Homo sapiens: one gene and its partner. The protein of the gene in region 1 interacts with the protein of each later gene in a biochemical or structural test. Each region holds a gene or a part of one and is shown on either strand. Other genes may lie near its edges.

Region 1 (6,163 bases):
GGCCTAGTGTAGGGAGTGGCAGTGGGTTTCTGAGGACGGCTTGTGATGGGGTCAGCTGGCATGAGGTCGGTGAGAGAGATGGACAGATCTTCTTATTCCCGGCCAAAGCTGCAGCCCCAAAGGAGGCCCAAGCCCCCAGTCCTGTCCCCACCAGCAGACTTTCAGGGCAGTGTCAATGTGAGGAAAGGGTTAACTCCGGGGAGGCCTCCAGCCTTTGCTTGGTCAGATCAGAGTCCAGTGACGGGGGCCGGTGCCTCCCCCTCCCTCCTCTCAGGTTGTCTTGGAAACTCAGCCTTGCTGGCTCTAGAGAGTAGTGGGTCCCCCTTCAATCCCTGGGCCCCTGCCCTCCCCATCCCCCACCATCACCCTGCCAAGCCTGGCGCCTCCCCCTGCCCAGGCCCGAGCCAAACAGGGCAGGGCTGCTGCACCGGGGCAGGGAGGGGTTAAGCATGCTCTGCTCCTTGGTCTGGACTTTCTCCCTGGGAAGATGGCTCCCTGGAGCGGGCAGGGGTGCTCACTGGGCCATACTGAGGGTGGAACCTCTTGGGACTTTGCAGTGGGTGGGGCCTCCTGGAGACTCAAGGTTGTATGTGTAAAAGGAGATTCACACAAAGGTCCTGCGACTCCCATCGCCAGCTGCAAGGGCCCACTGGGGAGGCCCTGTCCCCTTCTGGCGCAATCCAAGGCCTGAGGCTCCTAGAAGAGGGGATGGCCCCTGGAAGTCCCTAGCTGGCTCTGGGCATGGGAGGTGGGGTACCGCCTTACCCTTATCTCCCAAGTTCATGGAAACCAGGTAACTCAGATAATCCCCTTCTCCACTGAGGGGGAGACTAAGGCCCAGAGAAGCCCCAGCCTTCCTCCTAGGGATCTGATACGAGGAAGACACAGCTGGAATCTGGATTCCACTCAGCTCCTGGGATACTGTCCCCTGCTTCCCCCACCCCTTCACCCTGCAGGTAATTGGCCCCCTCAGACATTCCTCCCTCTTCTGCCTGTCTCTCGGGCTAGAGGGGCTGCAGCCTCTGGCCAAAGGACCTGAAGAGGGAGAGGCCTGGGGACAGTCCCCTCCCCGCAGTCCCTCCAGGATGGCATCCTCACCCTTTCCATAGGGAGGAATGCCCCCCTCTCCGGCTGCCAGGGTTTCACCCTGACCACTGTGAGCTGATGGGGAGGGGACAGTGAGTGACCCTGTGTCCCAGCAGCCTGTCCTTGCCCGGGGAAGGCTGTGGGTGTCAAAAGGGAGGAGAAGATGAGAGTCAGGTATCTCTGGCTGTGTCCTGGACTGGGGACAGGGAAAAGATAACCAGGAATTTTAAGCTAAGAGTTCAGAAGAAGCCCTACACTGACCAGTCCCTGGAGATGGAACAGCCACCCCTGAAGCCATGTGGGACCCCTACCCTGAGTGAGCCCAGTGAAGGTGACCCCAGACCTGTCTTCTCTCCCTCTGACCCCTCCAGGTTTCCCACTGGCTGGGGGAGGGGATACCCAGGACACACCCCTTGAGCCTTCTCGTCCCCCCTCATTTCCTGATTGGCAAATAGGAGTTGGGATTATTTTCTCTTTTTTTCTTTTTCTTTTTCTTTTTTTTGAGATGGAGTCCTGCTCTGTCACCCAGGCTGGAGTGCAGTGGTGCGATCTCGGCTCACAGCAACATCTGCCCCTAGATTCAAGTGATTCTTCTGCCTCAGTCTCCTGAGTAGCCGGGACTACAGCCATGCGCCACCACGCCCAGCAAATTTTTATATTTTTAGTAGAGATGGGGTTTCACTATGTTGGCCAGGATGGTCTCGATCTCTTGACCTTGTGATCCGCCCACCTCGGCCTCCCAAAGTACTGCGATTACAAGTGTGAGCCACCGCGCCTGGCCTTTTTTTTTTTTTTTCCGGACACAGTCTCTGTCACCCAGGCTAGAGTGCAATGGCACAATCTTGGCTCACTGCAACCTCCACCTCCTGGGTTCAAGCAATTCTCCTGCCTCAGCCTCCTGAGTAGCTGGGATTACAGGCGCCTGCCACCATGCCCGGCTAATTTTTGTATTTTTAGTAGGGATAGGGTTTCGCCATGTTGGCCAGGCTGGTCTTGAACTCCTGACCTCAGGTGATCCGCCTGCCACAGTCTCCCAAAGTGCTGGGGTCCCAGTCATGAGCCACCGAGCCCAGACTATTTTCTCTTTCAGTTGAGGCAGGTACTAACTATAGTCTGGGGTGTGGTTCCAATTTTGGTGTCATCATCATCACCTGGGAAGCGTTTGGAAAATGTTGATTCTTAGGCCTGCCCACTAAACCAGAATCTGTGCTGCCAAGGTCCAGGAATCTGTACTTTAACAAGCTTCCCACGTAGGAGTTCCCAGGTAGGAATTCCCAGGTAGGAATTAGGCAGCCATCCTCGAATTTCATCCCCATCTGAGACAATACATTTTTTAAACACCTTGTGACCCATCAGTGCCTCATAAGATCAATTTAGTAGATAGAGACCAGCAGGTTTTTTGGTTTGTTTTTTTTGTTTTGTTTTGTTTTGTTTTGTTTTGCCAGAGTCTTGCTGTGTTGCCCAGGCTGGAGTGTAGTGGCGTGATCTCGGCTCACTGCAACCTCCACCTTCTGGGTTCAAACAATTTTCCCACCTCAGCCTCCCAAGTAGCTAGGATTACAGGCGTGTGCCACCATGCCCAGCTAATTTTCTTTTTGTCTTTTTTAGTAGAGACGGGGTTTCACCATGTTGGCCAGGCTGGTCTCAAACTCCTAACCTCAAGTGATCCAGGTGCCTCGGCCTCCCAAAGTGCTGGGATTACTGGTGTGAGCCACTATGCCTGGCCCAGACATTTTTTTGTTTTTTTTAATGAAATGAAATTAAAAATATCAAAGAACACTGTAGTAAGGGTGTTGCTTTGTGAAACTTTTATCACACAAAATCTTTGTGTGTGCTGAGTCATCAAAATGGCAAACGTAGGCCAGACATTTGCTCACACCTGTAATCCCAACACTTTGGGAGGCCAAGGTGGAAGGATTGCTTGGGGCTAGGAGTTTGAGACCATCCTGCATGACATGGCAAGGCCCCATCTCTATAAAAAAAAAATTTTTTTTAAATAAATAAGGCAAATGTATTCATGGTGGGTGGTAGTCAAAAAAGTTTGAGATGTTGACCCAGGGAACAAGATCTAATAATCTGCCCAAACCCAACTCCTACCTCCTCTCCACGCTCTATTCCATCCCCGTTCTGGACTCACCTCTGCTCTGTCCTTTGCCTAGGTCCCCTGCCTGTGCCCTTCACCAATGGGGAGATACAGAAGGTAAGGGCGGGTCCCCTGTCTCTTTGGATTTCAATCCTTGGGGTGCATGAGACAGATCAGAAGGTGCTGTGGTTGGTAGGATAGCCATCTGACTAAGGCCAAAACCCCAGGGTCCCCAGTTCCAGCTCCTTCTTCAGCTCCAAGCTATAGAACTGCCAGAACCCTCTTGGCCTCTGCCTGGGGCCAAAGCTGTCAGGAGGGAGCGGGCTGGCTGGGCCCCTCTGCAGCCCGCCATCCTGGGTGACAAGCCCCCGCCTCCAACTCCCCACCATACAGAAGGGGCCATTCTTCCCCCCAAGAACAGAGCTTCAGTGTCTGGCCACGGGCAGCCGGGCCCCTGCTACTTCTAGTCTGGGTTGGAAGAACAAAGCCCCTCCTCCCCCCTTCCCTGGGCAGAAGGGAAAGGGGGTGAGGCCCGGGGAAGAGATGGTGGGGCTGGGCGCCAGCTGAAGCCATGGAGGAACCCAGGAAGGGGCTGGGTGCCAAGCTGACGCCCCAGCCAAAGCCTTCGCTCTGGGACAGGCCGACTCAGTCAGGCCACAGAGCAGGAACTCTGCAGGGTCTGCTTAAAGGTTCCCCTTCCCTAGGAGCTCCTGCCAGGGTACTTGGCAAGGGGGAGGGCCCTTGGACCCAGCCCTCAACCTTCTTTCACCTCATCTTTGGATCTAGAACTTTCCATCCACCTTCTTCTTTCAAGGCCCTCCTTTGCTGCTTCAGGGTTAGGGTTTCAGGATTCCTGGGGTCAAATCCTGGCAAACAGTCAGGTGGACCACATGAGATTCAGGGAGCACCACATGGGCTCCCCATGCCCCCATGTGTCCCCACATTCCAAGAAGCCCCTCCCTGGTCACTGGCCCAAAAGGCAAGCCAGTACCTAAAAGCCACATTGGAGTGGCCCAGGGAGAGGGAGCGGTTCAGCTAATCCCATGATGGTCTGTTCCCATCCCATCCCTCCAGCCTGAGCAGTAGAACCAGCCTGCCCTCTGATCCCCAAAGGAATGTAAAAAGGAGCCCCAGCAGGCTCAGGAGGTGGGAACCAGGGGTGGGTGGCCAGGGCATCAGTGCTACCTCTTCTCAGTCTGAGGCCCCTACTTCCCCAGGAGCTCCCTCCCTCCTCAGGACCCCCTCACCCCATCCTCTGACAACCCACAACCCTCTCCTCTCTGCCAGGAGAACAGTCGTGAAGCCCTGGCAGAGGCAGCCTTGGAGAGCCCCAGGCCAGCCCTGGTGAGATCCGCCTCCAGTGACACCAGCGAGGAGGTAGGCCAGCCATGCGGGGGGTGGCAACTGGGTTACAGGAAGCCGATTCCCAGGCCCCACTTGTTCCTGGCACACCAGCCTGCCTTTGAGGTCACATGCTGAGCCGCATTCTGTTCTTGTGACCTGGCTTCCCTGGGCACGGCCCCAACGGAGCCACCTCACCAAGGCTGAGGACCAGGGAGCCTAATGAGGGACTGACTCCCAACTTCCTGCCCCCACTTCTCTTTACAGCTGAATTCCCAAGACAGCCCCCCAAAACAGGACTCCACAGCGCCCTCGTCTACCTCCTCCTCCGACCCCATCCTAGACTTCAACATCTCCCTGGCCATGGCCAAAGAGAGGGCCCACCAGAAACGCAGCAGCAAACGGGCCCCGCAGATGGACTGGAGCAAGAAAAACGAACTCTTCAGCAACCTCTGAGCGCCCTGCTGCCACCCAGTGACTGGCAGGGCCGAGCCAGCATTCCACCCCACCTTTTTCCTTCTCCCCAATTACTCCCCTGAATCAATGTACAAATCAGCACCCACATCCCCTTTCTTGACAAATGATTTTTCTAGAGAACTATGTTCTTCCCTGACTTTAGGGAAGGTGAATGTGTTCCCGTCCTCCCGCAGTCAGAAAGGAGACTCTGCCTCCCTCCTCCTCACTGAGTGCCTCATCCTACCGGGTGTCCCTTTGCCACCCTGCCTGGGACATCGCTGGAACCTGCACCATGCCAGGATCATGGGACCAGGCGAGAGGGCACCCTCCCTTCCTCCCCCATGTGATAAATGGGTCCAGGGCTGATCAAAGAACTCTGACTGCAGAACTGCCGCTCTCAGTGGACAGGGCATCTGTTACCCTGAGACCTGTGGCAGACACGTCTTGTTTTCATTTGATTTTTGTTAAGAGTGCAGTATTGCAGAGTCTAGAGGAATTTTTGTTTCCTTGATTAACATGATTTTCCTGGTTGTTACATCCAGGGCATGGCAGTGGCCTCAGCCTTAAACTTTTGTTCCTACTCCCACCCTCAGCGAACTGGGCAGCACGGGGAGGGTTTGGCTACCCCTGCCCATCCCTGAGCCAGGTACCACCATTGTAAGGAAACACTTTCAGAAATTCAGCTGGTTCCTCCAAACCCTTCAGCCTCCGTGTGTTCCTTGGAAGTTTTGTCCTCTGGCCTTGGACCCCTTATAGGTAGAAATTGAGAAATGGTAAGCCAAGGTGGTCTTTGGCTGGGAGGGTGGGGTACACTGGAGGGAGGGCCATCAAGGGCTCCCTGTGACCCCAAGCCTGGGTAGCTTTAGCTAGAGGGCCTAGCTGCAGTCCTGTAGGAAGGAAGATGCATGCACCCAGCCGGGTATTCAGCTTGGTGTGGTCAGTGTGCCTGTGTGCTGGGCTGCAAGCACCGATTGTGGGCTGGGGACCCCTTGTCTAACGGGGATATTTACAAGGGGAAGTGGGAGCTCAGACCAACGTTCTCAGAGGACTCTGGGAGGTTCCTTTAATTCCAGAAGCGTGGAAAGTGTGTCCCAGGATGGAGCTGGGTTTGGAATGTGAGGACTTGGCTTTACTCTTTCTGCCTATAGCCAGTGGGGTGCAGAATTCCCAGGGGCAGGCTGGGCTGGTGCCAGATCC
Region 2 (7,968 bases), on another chromosome or scaffold:
TGATTTTAAATTATCAGGGTTATTAAGACCTTAAAATTATTTTACCAGGTTTTTACATGTGAGCTGTGACATGACTGGCATTTTCTTTGATTTCAGCGTATGTTGGTCTCTACACATGAAATTTGTGTGACTTAAAACTTTCTCTAAAACTGTACTTTTAGTTATGATATGCATAGAAAGCAGTATCAAATATTGCGTCAAATGACTAATAACACTTAATTTCTAGAGTTGTGGTTTTATTGAGCCAAAAGTTGATATGAAAAAAAGTCAGTAAGGAAAGTCAGTGAAGTGCTTGCTTTTTTGATAATTGCACTCCCAATAATTTTGATATTCCAACGTACTTGGTTTGCTTGTTTTCACGTTAATGTTTTCTGTTTATTGGAGTGGGAAGGCATTAAAATTGTCATTGAAGACTTTGTCTTTGACATGTTGTAGTATTTATTTCAGTAACTAACCTGTGAAAAGTTAAATTCCTTTATGAAAGTAGTGATTGGAGTATTTTTATCTGATAAAGAAAGATTAATAATGAAGCCATTTCTCCGAGGAAAATTGAGGACAATAATTCAGTTTTAAAATATTATCGCAAAATTAAATTATTCTAAAAATTTGTTAGTAGGGTTATATGCTTAATATTAGTCTGAAATATAGTGCTGAATTTGAGACTATAGAAAAATTAAGTGTATTTAGGGTATGTGGAAACGTTAGGCTTCTGTTGTATTTTTATTGTTTGGTAGATTTGCCTCTTTTCAAATAAATGTTCACAGGGAATACTTTTAACTTGTAGAGAGTACAGTGACTATTGAAGTTACCTAAATTACCTCAAGGTAAGTGATTACTGAAATTAATCATGAGGGTTTTAAAAAGTATTCTATTCACAACATTTATTTTACATTGTTTTGTATCTGCTAAGTTATATTTCCTGAAAAACATGACTGGACCACCTAATTGCTGTATGATAACTTACAAACTTCATTTTTCATAGTGCTTATTCAAGTGTAAAGCACAACTGAAAGGAGTAATGTACAGTTTATATGAGGAAAAAGGAATTTTATTGCTGCCAGTGTAAAAGTTTGCACAGCAGTATAGTCATCAATGCAGATTTACATTGCTTATAATATACTAAGTAAATACTAAATGATTAAAGATAATAAAATATGGTGAGGTATAACCACCTTCATTTTAAACTTAGTTTTAGAAGATAGTAAAGAAAGATTCCTTTATTACCTTTTTAGAATTTTATTTTTAATAACATGGGAAAGGCAACTGGTGATATTTTAATTTTTGTATGGAACAGTGCATCTGCTTTCTCATAGCCACATAAAATACATAAACTTCTTAGTGTTATGAAATGGCTTACTTTTTGGAAGTGAAGAAGTCTTCAATTCTTATTTTCTAATGTTATTTTGAAATTTGCCTCCATTTGCTGTTTGTTCATTTGGTGATAGCGCAACACTTAAAAAAATATTTTAAGCCGCTTCTGAAGTAATCACTTCAGTGACTTTTAATGGAGGAGTATTTGTTATGGGAAATTCACTTCACAAAGTTTTAACATTAATTCACTTGAAGTAAACGTGCTATTTTTAAATTTTCATCTCAATCTTTTAAGTAAGACGAAAGCTTAGGAAATCACTTTTATTATTGATATTGTGTGTGACTTCAGAGTTTGTAAAGAGAATTGTAGAAGTGTTGCATGCATATGACAATTTTCTGCTTAATTGAAATGTGAGGCCTCTGCCATACTACAAGGATTTAGCTTCCAGAAAATGTAATATTAACATAGCTTAAGAAATGTATTTTTTTTTTTCTGTAGAAACCGTTGGGTTAAACAAACAGTTCAGAAGTTTTATTACATGGAACCCATTAGTTCTTAATCTTGTTACCTTTTTCTTCATTTTTTCTGTTAAACTTGATTTTCACAGTCAGCATTGAAGAATTCATCTTGTGGCCTGAATTCATTAAGAAAAGATGTTAGGATTTGTTCTGAAGATAGTGACTTAGGAAATTTGTGAGACTGGGGTCAGTCAGTTCTGTTTTACAATTGCTTTCTATTTGGTAGCTTTGAAATTAATTTAGTTGCTTATCAGAGAGAATAATGTTGAGGTTAGACTAACCTTAAATTGGTAAGGCTTTGCTGAGCAAACTGATAACTGTAAGTCTTTTATAGGGTGCATTACTGCCACATATACGTTCTTCCATAGGTGGTTAAAAGTATATTGGTCTGTGTTTGGTGATTCTCTTTGTACATATTGAGTATATGCATTCACTAATGTAAAATAATTTGCCAAGAAAGGTGAAATTAGTATATTGTACTTGACTATTCACCTTTCCCTTAGTTTTTTGAATTTTTTTCATTGGTTGCAGAGGAAGTATTAGCAATTTAATTCTTTTAAAATAATTTGCACTGGAATAAATAAGTATCGGCAAATATAAGAAGAGTAACATAATTTAAGGGTGAATTAATTTTATTTGGGAAGTTTTAGTTCTGTATAGTTAAGGCAGATTCTTCATTTGCAACAGTTGACATTGGGACATGTGTGAACATCTTCAAGGTATTAGGACATCTTCAAGGCATTACTTTTTGGCAGTGTTGAGAATTTTTTTTTTTTTTTTTTTTTTTTTGAGATGGAATCTCGCTCTATCGCCCAGTCTGGGGTGCAGTGGCAGGATCTCGGCTCACTGGAACCTCTGCCTCCCAGGTTCAGGCGATTCTCCTGCCTGAACCTCCCAAGCAGCTGGGATTATAGGTGCATGCCACCACGCCCAGATAGTTTTTGTACTTTTAGTAGAGATGGGGTTTTACCACCTTGGCCAGGCTGGTCTCAAACTCCAGACCTCAAGTGATCCGCCTGCCTCGGCCTCCCAAAATGCTGGGATTACAGGCGTGAGCCACTGCGCCTGGCCAGTGTTGAGAATATTGAGAGATGGATATTGTAGCTGTACCTGCCATCAAAAGAATTTTCTTGACCTCCACATAGTGTGAAAAAGAAGACTGTTTACACATTATATTTTAAGTAATTATACACATAATTATTATCAGTACTCACCACTTCAAATATGAACAGTGAATCTAACCAGTGTTTGATTTCTCTGTGTGTGTATGTGTATACAAAGTTAGCAAACCTTTTATCTTAATATTTATTAAAAAACGAATTTTTGTTTCTTTAAAGAAAAGACTACCTTAGAGAATATTGTTCTATAGTTTTTAAATATGGTCAGATCTATTTTAAATTATGTTAAAATTTTGAGTATTACGTTTATCTATACTTTTAAGCATATATACATTGTTTCATTTTAGATTTTAGGGAGGCAGTGTGGGCTCTGGAGCCAGACTGCTTGTTTTGTAATCCTGGATCTTCCATTTAGTAGCTGGATGACTTTGAGTAGGTTATTTAGATTTTCTCAATCTATTTTATCTGTAAAATGGGGATGATAATGGAACCTACCGCATACGTTTATCTTGAATAGTAAGTGAGATAATAATAAGTAATTTCATTTAGCATAGTACCTGCCACATTGTAAATACTTAAATGGTAGCTACTGCTCTGAAAAACTGTAATTTCAGGTTATGTATGTAGGGAAATTATTTGTATTTTCATTTATGGTGTATGATTGTAACTGAATTTCCTCAGTTTGGGCCATGTTAGGATTTTGTTTCAAGTTATAAGTGTTTTTAAAAATAAGGGTATTCCTTTAGGAAGTCTGGGTATGACATGTCTGTGATTTTGCTGGTTCATCACAAATGGGAAATAAATCTCTGCTAACTCAAACTGTTGACCAAAGTAAAATTAATTATGCCAATCAAAAACTATTTGCTTTAAAATATAAAAGGCAAAAACTTCCTATTAGCATAATGAAGTAGAATTTTTAAACTTTGTTATAATCTTAAATTTTCTTTAGTGTTGAAGATAGGTCAACTTAACTATCATACATTTTTATTCACATAAAGTAAACTCTGCCTCAAATGTAATAAACTTAATATGAGTTATGTAAACTTTGGTCAATAGAGGTATATTTTTTAGCATTTCCTTTTGAAAATTTCAGCCTTTTGAGGGAGTCTTGCAACTGAATGTCAAGTTACATTTATTACAATAAAATGGACACTTAATATAATCTGTAATGCATTAACATAATATGGGAACTTTTAAAGTATTCAGTCTCTGTATTATTGAGTCCTATTTCCACATTTGGCCAGGATTCTCAATATGATTTAGGCCCAAGACGTGGGAAGAAAGAAGTAAAGAACTAAAGGATTTTTTTCTTCATTTTTTTAATTGAATATGGGGAAAGATGGAATAAGCTTATCTGTCCAGTAAAGGCCATTATGTGTACATAGGGATTATTATTTTTCCCCCCCTTGGGCTGTACTGATTTCCCAGATGTACCACAGCACTCTTAGTAGTGAAGCACTTGACTTCTAGTGAGTGGATTTTTTGTGTGTGTGTTTTATATTGCAGAGTGAATACACTCTGTCTGATACTATGTGACTTTCTGATTATGTGATTTTTATGCATTTTATGTGTTTTGTAAACTAGCTGTATTTTTGGTCCATGTCTAGGTTGTAGAATTGAATTGTGCATTTTGGCATCTGAGCACAGCTGAGTTTTCTAAATCAATCTCTCTCCTTGCACCTAGTTTTTGCTTTAGATCACTACCTAAGACTTACTGTTGATTTAATATTAGAGCACTTAAGCATAGCTTTGACTTTTATTTCCTTTGATTTTTGTAGATTTTCAGGCTGAAGTACAATAAGGTTCTCTGTTCTTTACTAGTAATTGCAAAGATTGTATTCTGTGAATTTTATTTGTTTAATACTTTTGATCTTTTGAAGAGGATGTAATTATTTAAGGTATTATGAAATGCATTGTGATTTGAATTAGATACTCTTTGGAGATGGAGTTTTGCTGTTGTTGCCCAGGCTGGAGTGCAATGGTGTGATCTCGGCTCACCACAGCCTCCGCCTCCTGGGTTCAAGCAATTCTCTTGCCGCAGCCTCCCAAGTAGCTGGAATTACAGGCATGCGCCACCACGCCCGGCTAATTTTATATTTTTTTTTTCAGTAGAGATGGGGGGTTTCTCCATGTTGGTCAGGCTGGCCTCGAACTCTTGACCTCAGGTAATCTGCCTGTCTCAGCCTGCTAAAGTGCTGAGATTACAGGCATGAGCCACTGCGCCCGGCCTCAGATACTCTTTTAATTAGATGCGTTTAAAAATTTAACCCACCATTGCTGGCATGAATAGATGTATTTTTAGAGTGATTCATAAATATCGTATACATGTTTAAAGTTACAAACTTTTTGCTTATTTCAAAATGCAGGATTCTTTTCCATTTAAAATTCCCTCTCTTTGTGAGACTTCTTTTTGAGTATTCTGGTTACTCTAAACTGATTGGAGATGAAATTAGATAGAATTGAAAACTGTACTTTTAAAATGAAATTTTGGGGATGTCATTAAGCTTGATTTTTTAGGTTTTTTTTTTAGTGTGTATTATAAATTATTTTACACTGATTGTCAGCGATAAAATGGAATGCCTGGGATTTTTTAAAATTTATTTTATTCATTTTTATAAGGTAAAAACAGTGTTTTGCTAGGCTTAATTTGACCATGTTGTAAAATTTATTGTATACCTTGAAAGAATCATTTATGAAAGATACTGAATTAGCTAATATATACTCTGTCTTATGTAGTTTTTGATTAACAATACACTTTTTAAATCATTAGCTCATTTGATTTTGCAAAGAAGAACAGGTAACCTAAGAGGCAGACAGAACAGGCATTACTTTTATTTTTCTTTCTTTTTTATTTTATTTATTTATTTATTTATTTATTTTTTGCAGCTTAGGAATTGTAGCTCCAGTGGAATCAGTATCTTGTTAATGGCTAGTGAAAGACTGAGTCTGAAGAAGGATGCAGGACTTTTTTGGCACTTGGTGCAGTATTTTTCCCATTATGTTACATGAGTGGTTCTTAAACTTCAGTGTGTTAGAACAACCTGAAGGGCTTATTAAGCTATGGATTGCTTACTCCACCCTCAGAGTTTCTGATTCAGTAGGTCTGGATTGGGACCTGAGAATTTTTATTTCTTAGAAGTTTTCAAGTGATGCTGATGCTGGTGCTCTGGGGATCACACTTTGAGGACCACCAATGAACATTATCTCCCACCAAGCAAACCCTTAACATGTTATACTCCTTTAGGTTATTAGAATTTATACATGCATTATTTCATTTGACCTGTAAACTCTAAGTAACTTTGCATGGAAAATGTTATCCTGATTTTATAGACGAGATAGTGAGTTTAGAAAGGCAGTATGGTGGAATGGAGCATAGATTTGGAGTTGGCTAGACCTAAAGTCCAGATTAAATCTCTGCTCAAGGCTGGGCGTGGTGGCTCATGCCTGTAATCCCAGTGCTTTGGGAGGCCAGCGTTGGCAGATTGCTTGAGTCTGGAAGTTCGAGACCAGTCTGGGCAACATAGGCAGACCCTGTCTCTACAAAAAAAAATACAAAAATTAGTCGGGTGTTATAGTGCGCATTGGTAGTCCCAGCTACTGAGGAGGCTGAGGTGGGATCACCTGAGACTGGGACTTTGAGGCTGCATTGAGCTGTGATTGGGACACTGTACTCCTGCCTGGGTGACAGAGTGAGACCCTCTCTCAAAAATAAATAAATAAATACATCCCCGCTCAGCCACTTATCAGTTACGTAGATACACTGCCTAACCTTAGTGAACCCTGTTTCGACAACTCCAAAATGGGAGTAAAAATCCTAAACTTGTACAGTGGTTTTTTAGTTTTGTTAAAAGTACAGGTGAGGTTTTTTTCAGAGTATTGGTTGCCATCTGAGAGTGATCCCCTTTCACCTCCTCTAGGACTTTTAGCATTTTCTGGAGACATTTTGGTGGTCACAGCTGGGGTGGTAGAGTGTGCTATTGGCTAGGGGCTTGAAGCCAGTGATGCTGCTTAACATCCTATATGGCACAAGACCCCTCCCCATCAACAAAGAATTATCTAGCCCAAAATGCTGTGTAAAATGTCTGGTATATAATAAGTATAATATTTGATGAAAATCAGTACCTTTGCCCCCAGGTGTGATATTTAAGAAGGTCAACTTACTAAATCAGTGATGGAGTTAGTCCTAACATCTGGGTGTTCTGACTGCTGCTAGGCCAGTATTCTTTATATGATAATAAGAACTTTGTCCACAGAAGATATCCCTAATAACAAAAAAGGTTTATTTGAAGAGGACTCATGTGTTCTTTGGCTGATTGTGAAAGTGTTGCTTTGAACTTCTGTTAGAAAAGGTTGAAGATGTTTTCCGTAAGTGTTTTTAATACTGTACGTAGTATTCAGAAGGATGTTTAATTTTTTTTTTAATTTTGCTAGTAGTTTTTAAAGTAATCCTTTTTCCTTTAATTATGTAGTTGTTGAACTGTTGGGAGTTACTTTTCTCTTACTATTTTGTTATTTAATGTATTCTTTGACCTTATGCTTTTTTATTCTAAAGCTGCTTTTATTATAGTCAGATATGATGAAGTTAAATGTACAATGTAAAATTGCAAATTTCCAACGAGCTATACAAACTTAAATATTTCTAAGTAAAGAAAATAGGGCTGACTCTAAGGTTCTTTGATCCATGTGTTGCATTCTTTTCTAGGCCCTAAATTTGCTATGCCAGCCTGTTGAATTAAAGTGCTTTATTTATCTAAATTAGAAACTTGTATTAAAGTGAAGTTTTAGAAAAAAAGAAACAAAATCGGAATGGAGTTTTAGGTTAGCCCAGAGATGGGAAGATGCCAAGAAGGTAGCTTTAGTGGATTCTGAATTTTTTGGTTTTGTTTTGTTTTTAGGGCAGGCAAATGTAATTACAAAAGGGTTCTAGGAATAGATTGCTGTGATTTTTTTTCTGTTTGCATGATTTTACAGTTTGCTTTGCCTCTCACTTTTGAATGCAGAATAAAATGTCAAGGCCTTA

The links. The genes of interacting proteins can lie anywhere in the genome.
Region 2: the proteins of NHERF1 (region 1) and PTEN form a complex in vitro, tested with the Homo sapiens proteins (3 studies listed by BioGRID and IntAct).

The regions. Positions count from the first base shown.
Region 1 is NC_000017.11:74,763,691-74,769,853, forward strand, and holds the end of NHERF1 (Na(+)/H(+) exchange regulatory cofactor NHE-RF1), read left to right. Parts: intron 1-3,245; coding exon 3,246-3,286; intron 3,287-4,456; coding exon 4,457-4,546; intron 4,547-4,777; coding exon 4,778-4,966; 3' UTR 4,967-5,663; downstream 5,664-6,163. UniProt on the Homo sapiens protein: Scaffold protein that connects plasma membrane proteins with members of the ezrin/moesin/radixin family and thereby helps to link them to the actin cytoskeleton and to regulate their surface expression. Necessary for recycling of internalized ADRB2.
Region 2 is NC_000010.11:87,866,625-87,874,592, forward strand, and holds part of PTEN (phosphatidylinositol 3,4,5-trisphosphate 3-phosphatase and dual-specificity protein phosphatase PTEN), read left to right. Parts: intron 1-7,968. UniProt on the Homo sapiens protein: Dual-specificity protein phosphatase, dephosphorylating tyrosine-, serine- and threonine-phosphorylated proteins.